3 linked regions of the Homo sapiens genome follow. The protein of the gene in region 2 interacts with the protein of the main gene of each other region in a biochemical or structural test. Each region holds a gene or a part of one and is shown on either strand. Other genes may lie near its edges.

Region 1 (3,653 bases), on a different chromosome or scaffold from region 2:
AGTTCTGATTTTTCTACCTCTGTAACGTCTCTTGCATTCATTCCCTCCTTTCCTCTATTTTGTGTTCTGCTACCTCTTGCTTGGACTCCAAGGCAGTCTTGTTCAAACACAGCATTGGTTTGCTCAGAAAGCTTTGGTGGCTCACCATTGTCTTCAGAACAGAGCTCAGCTTTTTTGTGGGAGTAAAGACTCTAGCTAGCTTACCTGTGATTCCAGCAATATATTTCATTAGGCCACTGGACATACTCTGTAATCTCTTGATTCCCACATACCCTAATTTTTTGCTTCTATAGCTCTCATCATGCGTAGTCCCTCTGCCAGAATTATTCTTTACCCTATCTGTTACTAGGTCTTACCCTTCACTTAATGTAGTGATAATCACACTAAATGTGGCCCATGGACCCCATGGACTGGAATGCTTGTTAAAACAAACAAGCAGATGCTCAGACTTTATACCTGAGGATCTGATTCTGGATTCTGGGATGGGACCCAGTGATCTGTGTTTTCAGCAAATAGCCATAGGTGGTTTGGATGAATTTGCTCCATGCCCCCTCCCTTTCCCCAGGAACAGTGCCTTAGGGGCTGTGTCTCTTTATTTGAAGCATCTCCAGTCTTCTTGGCTAGAATGGAGATCTCCGTGTCCTTTGCTTTCCCTAGCATGCTTACTCCTGTCACTCCTCACAGTACCCATTATGTGTGTTAGAGTCACAGCTTTCATGTGTGGCTGTCAGTCATGTAGAAGTCCTTTGGTATGCCTAGTTTGTCTTTTTCTCTCCTACTAGCATAGTGCCTGACACTTTTATTTCCTCGTTTTTCAGACATTCTTAATTACAAAGATGTTCTAAAAAAATAAAATACCTGTAATCCCAGCTCTTTGGGAGGCTGAGGCAGGCAGATCACTTGAGGTCAGGAGTTGGAAACCAGCCTGGCTGACATGGTGAAACCCCATCTCTACCAAAAACCAAAACCAAAACCAAAAATTAGCCAGGCATGGTGACATGTACCTGTAGTCCTGGCTACTCAGGAGACTGAGGCACGAGAATCGCTTGAACTCAGGAGGTGGAGGTTGCAGTGAGTGGAGATCATGCCACTGCACTCCAGCTTGAACGTCAGAGTGAGACCCTGTCTCAAAAAAATAAAAATTAAAAAATATGTAATATAATTTAATTCTACATTAAGTTCCTTCTGGGAAATATGGATTATTTCTATAATAGTTTCCTAATTTTCTAGGAAGTGGACAGTTCTTGTGTAATTATAATTTTTATTTGGGGGGGTTGAAATGTGTTTTGTTATGTTTAGCAGCATATTTTTGAATTTTGGATAGGAAAGGTAAACATCAGAAGAAATAGAGGTTAGCAGATAAAATAACTAAAATTAAAATTAACCTTTTCGTTTCAACTAATGATTTGATTATTAAACTTATTAATGCACATTAAAAACTGACAGGTTTTAAGGCCCTACATGACTTAACATTTTGCCTAAGATGAACAACTGCCCTTTAATCAATTTTCGGGACAAGGGATAGGGTGTTGATAACACAGCTTAGGTTTTTAGCAGACTACTCATTTGTTAGTAATAACTTTGGGTGTAAACATGAATGTTTTTCTTTCTAAGTTCCCAAAGGTAAACATTTCCTTTTTTGGTTAGTTCCATCATGGGTCAGCTAAATAGCTTACTGTGGAAAAGAAAAATACAAGATTCACATTCTCGTTATAACTTAAGGTACCTTTCTAGTTATTATAAATTAGCATACTGAGGATAATAGATTGTAAGAAGTGGCCTGTTTTAGTACTGAATTAAATATTTGAAATACTCTACTCTGGCTGTACATTCAACATAGCCTGCCACTGCACTTTTGAGTTACCCTGTCTTTAGAAAACCTTCTTATGTGACAATAGCTAGATAATTTGGTAACTCAGATGAATAAAGAGATGGGAGTCAGGGGTTGGCTGGATGATACAATTGGAGATATGGATGAAAACTGACAAAATGGCTAGGAGTCATTTCCAACTATTTTTTTTTGTTTAATTTATATTCACTTATTGAGAAATAAGGCAACACTTGTTACGTAGGACAGGACAGTGTGTGTGACAGTGGGAGGAACATCCCACAGCTTCCTACTTTCTGTAAACAGTTTAACATTGTCAGCATTAATACAACTTCCTGTAATGGCCAGTCTGTCTTTGCAATTCCTGAAACCAAAGTGTTTTTGCTAATCATGGTACCTTCAGTTAGACTTAATTCTTTTCTTTTTGTGCTTGAGGTTACTCTTCTTGAAGCCGATAAGATAGTGTATTCATTAACACAGAGATTTACTCCCTCAATCTGTGTAACAAAGTAACCATTTAGCTCCATGATTGGCCTGTAAAAAGGGGAGGTCCAACTAAGTATTCTAGAAACTTCAGTTTCAGCTAATTTTTTTTATTTATTTATTTGCACTGCAGCATGTATTGGAAATATAATACAATCAAGAGTCATTTGAAGCTCCTGTAGTCCCAGCTTCTGGGGAGACAGGAGGATTGCTTGACCTCAAGAGTTCAAGTCCAATGTGGGCAACATAGTGAGGACAGCCCCCTCCCTCTTAAAAAAAAAAAAGAATCAGAGTCATTTATTAATTAATGCTAATTTGGATTTGCTTTAAATATTAAAGAATTGCTACTTTCAGTTGTAAAATACTATGTTTCTTTTGGATGATTGGTCCATTTTCTCTATAAGTATAGTCAAGCAAGGACTTTGAGTTGCTAAAAACCTATTGGTTATCTTTTGATTCTAGGATTAGTGTTAAATATTTCATCCCATCTAAAATAAAGATTATATATAACATTAGAGATAGTAGAGGTTTTTATCTTACTTTATTAATATTTTTTAGAGACAGAGTCTCACTCTGTTACACAGGCTGGAGTGCAGTGGTGTGATCATAGTTCACTGTAACCTTGGGACTCCTGGGCTCAAGTGATCCTCCTGCTTCAGCCTCCTAAAGTGCTGGGATTACAGTAGTGAGCCACCTCACCCAGCCAGAGATAGTAGAGATTTTAAAGTTGAGTTTAATTTCCTTTTGATGAAATTGATCAGATGTCAGAGTGGTTACATTTTATCCAAATCTTGTAAACCCAGAGCTTTATGTTTATTTACGTTAAAAATGAAGTTTTTTTCTTTTTAATTAATTTCTTTTTTAAAATTTCCGTCAGTTCCTTTAAGTTTACACTTATAGTTTTAATACAACTTTGTGAAGTGTGTGTGCATGCACACATAGGTGGTATCACTTGTATTCTATTATGTTGAAATTTTCATGTTCGCATTTTTTTGGGTGAAAACTTGACTGGCTGTAGGATGTCTGGGTTCTTGGTGCTAAAGCTTCCGGAATTGGAAAATACTGTGCTGCTTTCTATATTACCTTTTATTGCTAAACAAAGCTAGGGGCACAATAATTTATGATTCTCTGAAAATGTTTATTAAACAACTAAGAGATGGAACAAGTAAATAGTTTTGTTATGAAAAGTAGACTTTAGTTTCAGAACTCTTTACCTAGAGCGTGGACCTAACCCAGGAAAAAGGTTTGTGAGCTTACTTTAAAGAAAAGCATAATGGCCAAAGGACTCCTTGGATTGAATGTTCCCTGCTTATCTTTCACAGATATGCGCAGCCAACCAAGT
Region 2 (3,653 bases):
AGGTGGTTTTAACCGTTTCGTTGATGTCCCTATGTGTCATGCTGGGAACCCCAGCTGATCCCCATGGTTAGTTCATGAGGGACAGGGGTAGATGCTTCTTTCTTTCATAGCAGGATCTCATTAATATGAATGTGGGTGCATAGCAGGGCTTCTATATATACCTACTGACTTAGCTCTATTAAACCACAGCAGTCTTGATATATTCCTGGGGTTACAGAAGTTCCTCCCTCTTGCTGAAGAAAGTGGAGGTGCCGTTAGGGGCTGACTAACATGAGAGAGAGCCCCTGGACTGAGATGGGTTTCAAGAAACACAAGCTTCTTTCAGGACTTTTTTGCTGGAGATTTCCCTAAGATAGGCACATACCTCCAACTCAGGAAGACTATATTGGGGTGAGTGACGTATTGACATTATGGTCCTGGCCTATCTTGCAGGGATTTGAAACTGGACAACATCCTTCTGGATGCAGAAGGTCACTGCAAGCTGGCTGACTTCGGGATGTGCAAGGAAGGGATTCTGAATGGTGTGACGACCACCACGTTCTGTGGGACTCCTGACTACATAGCTCCTGAGGTAAGACCTGTGTGCAAAGGTTCACCTCCTCCTGGTGCCAGGACCGAGGCAGGGGTCCAAACCCATGCACTGGGGTCATCTAGTGGTGCTGGGGGAAGGCTCTGGAAATCCAGGATGGATTCTAGGAAGGAGGGAGAAAAGGAAAGGAAAAAAGTTTGCTGATTGATGTCTGTCAAGAAGTCCTAGTGTTGGGGAGATGATGAGTGAAATGAGAGTAACAGGCTATTTCCCAAACCCGGGCAAGTTCACACTGAACATCTCTTTCCCATCCTAGTCCAGAACCACCAATAAATCTAGGACCAAGAAAAACGTGTTGACTTTTATTATTGTTTTCATGTCTTTAAAATCAGAACAGGGTGGGCACAGTGACTCACATCTGTAATCCCAGCACTTTGGGAGGCCAAGGCAGGTAGATCGCTTGAGCCCAGGAGTTCAAGACCAGCCGGGGCAACATGGTGAAACCCTGTCTATATAAAAAATACAAAAATTAGCCAGGCATAGTGGTGCAAACCTGTAGTCCCAGCTACTTGGGAGGCTGAGGTGAAAGGATCAATTGAGCCCAGAAGGTTGAGGCTATAGTGAGCCATAATTGCACCATTGCACTCCAGCCTGGGTGACAGAGCAAGACCCTGTCTCAATAAAAAAAAAAGTAAAAAATAAAATCAGAATAAAGGAGCATCATTGATCATGGGAGCACTTCACTTTATCAGCTACAATTTGCTAACAGTAAAACTAGGAACTGTTTGCTATTTCCTGCATAGTGGCAGTTCTATGCTGTGAGTACACAGGATGGAGCAGGAAGAGGAGAGTGACTGTGCCTCATTATATACAGATATCAGAGATGTTCACTGTGAACCACTCCAATAGGTTGCCTTTCCTGAAAGTTGTTTGGGATGTTTTGCTCAGCATGAAGTGTTTGTTTGCCTTATTCCTGCCCAAACTGAGAGATAACTAGTGTGATGTGATTCAGATTTAAGACATGGCCTGTCATAGACAATCAAAATGATCTTCATGGTTCTGAGACATGTAAGATAGGAAAGAAGTACCAATCCCCACTAAACATCGCCCATGGCGGATAGGTATTAGCACATTCAGAGCTCATTTCTTTCAGTGGGCATTGTTTGAGCACGTGCTAGGCACAAAGCAATGTGGAGATAAAGAACTGACTGAGACACTTGTCCCTATTCTAAAGAAGCTTTTGGTCTAAAGGGAGTGATAGATAAGTAAACAACTAATTAAGCAGAATAAATAGGCACATAAAAGAAGATGGTATCCTCAGGGATCAGGAAAGGCTTCTTGGAGCACCTGGTGGATGAATTGAGTTGTAAAGAATGAGGATTTCCTTTGACGGAAGGGGTGGGGAGGGTATTCCTGAAAACAACAGGATTGGAACGGGGGCAGGACAGGAAAGGAGGTTCAGTGTCCCTGGGCCCTGGATCCTTTGAGGGCAGGGTCTGTGTTTCTAATCTGGGTACTGCCAGGATCCGGCACACAAATCAGGATCTTAGAAAGGTTTGTTAAAAAATGACAACTTATGACATTCCAACATGAGCAAAGGCCAAGGGACAAAAACATCTTGGTCTTTTCCAGGACAGTTAAAAAGTGTAGCTAGATCATAGGGTTTCCTGGTGCTCATAGTAATGAATGAGATTGGGATAAAGACCCAGTGAATGTGGCTTTGATCCTGTAGGATCTGTGGACCCACTCAGGGTTTCAGTGGAGGAGAGTCCTAGTCAGATCCATCCCAGGAAGAAGGAAGGCCACAGCTGTGCAGATCAGAAGGCAGGGAGTGAGGGACTGATGGTCAGGAGGCTTCACAGACCACACAAGACAGGGGAGGCCTGAGGAACATCTCGAAGTGAAGGTGATGAGTAATAGGTAGTTTCCCTTTAGAACCTTTATCTTCTAAGAGATCTAAAGAGTAGGGATTTCAGTCTTTCTGCAAATGTATTTCCTTAGCAAGAACACTAGGAATTCAGCCTTCAAGGAGCAACAAATGAAAGCAAGAGCTTTCGACAGGGAACTGCTTTTCTCGTGTTCTTCGTTCATTCTTCATTGTCAGAATACTTAGTTCCAGTTCCTCTCTAAGTTGATGCCATCATTCATTCTTCATTGTCAGAATACTCAGTTCCAGTTCCTCTGTAAGTTGATGCCAGAGCCTAACAGTTGACAGCCCATGTTATAGTTAAGGACCCAACCCAAGACAGAACATTCACTTTATAATGAACAAAATAGCCACTCAGCTTTCATGAAAAGCAGTCCATTGGTGAGACTCACAATGAACAACTCTGATCTCTGTTCACAATGAAGCACAGACACTCTTCCTTCCTGCTCTGGCCTTCGTGCCCACCGTGCAGAAACATCTCTGCACTGGCAATGACAATCCCTGGTCTTGCTGTAGGCAAATTACAGCTGATAAAGGTATTGCTGCCTTCATCGAGGGCTACTGGGAAGATTAAATGAGATTATGCCTCTAAAGCATTAGCCCAGTGCCCAGCCCACAGGGAGTGCTGGCTAAATGGTGGCTTCATGGTTATCATCATTGTTGGGTTGTGTGATGGGATAGGAAACGCAATCCTGAGAATTGAGTCTTGAGTCCAGATTTGACCACAAATGTACACATGAGCATTTGATGACTTGATGAAGTCACAAAATGTTTTTGAGTCTCAGGTTTCTCATCTTTCACATGGGAGCCATAACTCCTTCCCTACCTACCTCATCAAGCTGCTTTGAGAATCTAATGAGATTAGAGCATGGAAATGCTTGAGAAAGCAGAAGCCTCCATTCAAATGGGAGAGGTGGTAAGGTGCTGAGCTAACCTCAAAACCAGAGACAGCTTTGGAGGCATGAGGTCTGCCCCAAGGCTTATCTTCCTGCCACATGATATGCCCCATGGCACCCCCTCTGCTTTCCCACTCCCAGCCCCTGCTTCCCAGGAAGTGGCCACCAGCCTTTGGTAATAGCATCATCAGGGCCAATGCCTTCTCCCTTCTCCCTTCTCCCGAGCTCTGACGCACTTGAGGGGTTGGCTCCAGGTGACTTCCCGTGACATGGAAGCCTTGCCCTTCTGCCCAGATCCACT
Region 3 (3,653 bases), on a different chromosome or scaffold from region 2:
CCATGGTACAAGCATCTGGGTCCTCATCCATAAGATGGGGATGGCTCCATCCACTCCAGGGATGTCAGCTAAAATGAAACACAGCATCCGACCACAGGGAGCCGGGAATAAACGACCGCAGCCTCACTTCCTTTTCTGGCCCTGTGGAGATGCTGCTCTGCCCACCTGAGTCGGCTTCTGTCTTCTTGCCAGGCCCTCGAAAGTGTACCTCCTTTCCAGATCCTGCTAAAGCTCCATTCACCCCAAGAAGCCTCCCTTCCCCAGCGTTCGGGAGAGATCATGCGGACAGGGAACCCAGCTCAGATGCCACATGATGCCCTGGAAAAATGGCAGCCACTGTTATCCATGCAGTTCGGTGCTTGGATTTAGACTCACTTAATGCATTTCTGAATGCTCCCTGGATCACTGTGATCAGAGAGTAAGCACACGAAGGGCAGGGACCCTTTTTTCCTGGTATCCCTGACAGAGCTCGGGCCCAGGCTCTATAAATCCCTAGAGAAGTGACTGAACGGAGCAGAGGCTTTAAGGCTTCCAAGCACACAGATAAGCTGTGGAAAGCTTTGCCTTGTCCCATAAAGGGACAAGTACAGGTCCGTGCTGCTTCATAGAAGGGATCGTTAATACTCTGCCTTCTAACAGCCAGTACACACACTGCCTCCTCCACCCCAACGAGCATCCCGCAGGGCCCCAGGCAGCGCTTCCTGGCCCTCCTCACAGCCAAGTGTACACAGAACATGATGATATCACAAGGTACCCTGGGTGGCTTCCAGAAGGTAGCTGACCCACATCCTGCCCAGCCATGTTGGGGACCCAGCACTGAGGAGATCAGTATTGGAGAATCCCCATAATCCATGCAAAAAGTGGGGACCCACAGCCAAGACGCTGACAGAGCCAGGATCTGAACCCAGGTCTGTGTGACTGAGTATCGTGTTTCCCGCCCCCACTCCCAAAACATGCTGCCAGGTGGGAGCACTCGGTTATCTCCTCCTCCTCTTCCTTTGTATTTAACAAAGGTCTCATTGAAAATATCAGCCTATCTAAACGGTACTGGGAAGTGGTTTGTGCTGACCCCTGGGCTGGAGGTCTTAGGGAGTCCCGACACAATGTGGAATGGTGAGGCCCGCGTGGCAGGAGAACCACAAGAACAGGGGAAGCAGGTTGTGGTGGGGCTCGCTTGTTCACTGCCCTCCCTCCCTGGGAAACACTCAATGTGGGGTTCTCTGTCTAACAAGGAAGACTTATAAGTGTTTTGTCCTCCAAAGAAGTGTTTTTCAACCAAGCACAGTGGCTCATGCCTGAAATCCCAGCACTTTGGGAGGCCAAGGCAGGAGGACTGCTTGAGCCCAGGAGTTCCAGACCAGCCTGGGCAACATAGAAAGACCTCATCTCTACAAAAATAAAAAAATTAGCCAGGCGTGGTGTCTCACGCCTGTAGTCCCAGCTACTCAGGAGGCTGAAGTGGGAGGACTCCTTGAGCCTGGGAGTTCAAGGCTACAGTGAGCCCTGATCGAGCCACTGCACTCCAGTCTGGGTGACAGAGGGAGACCCTGTCTCAAAAAACAAACAACAAAAAATCAATAAAGAAGTGTTTTCCCCTTCCTGCTTCAAAAAGGTTTAGACTGTGGTGAACAATGAGAGCCTAAGGAACACCAAGGCCTCCCCCTGAGTCCTCACCACAGAGAAGCCACAGGCACAATGGAAAAAGCATGAGGTTGGGTTCCGAACAGACGCAGGTTCCAATCCTAGCCTCTTTGCTTGCGAGCTCAGGTCTGTGGGTGAGTCACAGAGACTGTGCTTCAGTCTCCTCAACTATAAAATGGGAACAAAGACAACAGTACTTCCTTTCAGAGTTGTGAGGGCTGGAGAGAAAGCACGTAAATACCTAGTTTGATGCTGGCGCATAGCAGGTTCTCAGTAAATGATGCCTCTGATTATCAGGCCACTTCTCTGACTGAGGATACCCATGCTTAGGGGCTTTTTCATGTAACTTCTATTGTGATAACTACAACATTCCTTCTTCTGCAGACAAGATGCAGTGCATGGAGTGTCAGGAAAGTGCACACTGTTGTTACGTGGAGTAAAACCATCAGAGTCAAGGAACCAACACCACCATAGCCCAGCTGCTTCTTTTAAGAGGCTGTGAACAGAGGGGTTCCCAACAGAGAACATACACGCTCATCTTCTGAACTTGGACAATGATCAAAGACTTCTCCTCAGCACCCAAAGCAGCCCTAGAGATTTCCCAAACTTGGGGAGAACCCACGGGGAAGGAAGGTAGAGAGCTTCCTGGCCTGGGCCGGGCTCACGGGTAGGCATCATTGAGGACCTGCAGGCACTCCACTCCTCCTGCTCCCCTCCACCTCTACTCCACCACTAAGCGCTGTTAATTCCACCCCTTAAATCTCTCTCTCTCTTTTTTTTTTTCTCAGACAGAGTTTCGCTCTTGTTGCCCAGGCTGGAGTGCAGTAGCACGATCTCGACTCACTGCAACCTCCACCTCCTGGGTTCAAGTAATTCTCCTGCCTCAGCCTCCTGAGTAGTTGGTATTACAGGCATGCGCCACCATGCCTGGCTAATTTTGTATTTTTAGTAGAGACGGGGTTTCTCCACGTTGGTCAGGCTGGTCTCGAACTCCCAACCTCAGGTGATCCACCTGCCTCTGCTCCCAAAGTGCTGGGATTACAGGCATGAGCCACTGCACCAGGCTAAATATCTCTTAAGTCTGCCCACCTCTCCCCATCTCTCACCTAGACGACTCCAAAACATTCAGACCTGGTCTGCCTGCATCACTGGGACGGAGCCAGTGACACTGTAGTAGCAGTCACTGAGAGCTGGTTGTTAACTACTCAGGAATCAGGCCGGAGCGGGCTATTAAACTACTGGTGGCTTGAAGTCAGCCCTGGTGGGAGTAGCTACTCCATGAGAACTGCTGCACACTATGGATCAAGGCATTTCTTCCGAGAGCTGATTTTTTCCCAGCACGCTGCCCACTGCTTGGGCCCTCCCAATCTGTCCCCATGGGCACAGCGCCTCCCTCTAACATCGTTCCACTGCTCCTCCATCAAAACAAAACCTCCTCGGCTGAAACTGCCCAAAAAACACCACAGGATCTGACTTGCACCGTCCACCCTCAGCCACCCAGGCACTTGTGCCCCATCCTCCCTTCCGGCCACGCTGGCCTTCAGTCTTGCCCACTTGCCACACCTGCCCTCCACAGAGGCCCCTCAGGAGCCTCTCCCTTGGCCTGGAACTCTCCTCCCACCTTCTCTGTCAAGCTGACTTCTACTAGGGCCTCAGTTCAAGTGTCACTTCCTTGGGGAACCTCCTCTGACACTGACTGATCCCACCCCAACGGAAGGTCTCAGTGCACTGGGTCCTTCTCCCAACTCACACTTTACCATACTTAGGAGCTTACATTTATAATTAGTTGACTAATGGCTCCTTCCCTTCTCCAAAGGTCTGCTTTAATTACCAATGTACACATAATAGACATTCGATAAATATTTGTGGACTGGCAGAGTGGATGATTTGGGGCACCTAGCACATATACAACGTCAGGCACTTGCTACAGGAGAACTGAAGGAACTCCAAAGGCCAGACCCAGCCCTGGCTGACCAGGAATGCAGGGTCCTGACAAGACTTACTCCACACGC

The links.
Region 1: of the proteins of PRKCE (region 2) and GNA13, one has a biochemical effect on the other in vitro, tested with the Homo sapiens proteins (one study listed by BioGRID).
Region 3: of the proteins of PRKCE (region 2) and IKBKB, one has a biochemical effect on the other in vitro, tested with the Homo sapiens proteins (one study listed by BioGRID).

Annotation. Positions count from the first base shown.
Region 1 is NC_000017.11:65,046,604-65,050,256, reverse strand, and holds part of GNA13 (guanine nucleotide-binding protein subunit alpha-13), read left to right. Parts: intron 1-3,653. UniProt on the Homo sapiens protein: Guanine nucleotide-binding proteins (G proteins) are involved as modulators or transducers in various transmembrane signaling systems.
Region 2 is NC_000002.12:46,144,661-46,148,313, forward strand, and holds part of PRKCE (protein kinase C epsilon type), read left to right. Parts: intron 1-432; coding exon 433-571; intron 572-3,653.
Region 3 is NC_000008.11:42,277,768-42,281,420, reverse strand, and holds part of IKBKB (inhibitor of nuclear factor kappa-B kinase subunit beta), read right to left. Parts: intron 1-3,653.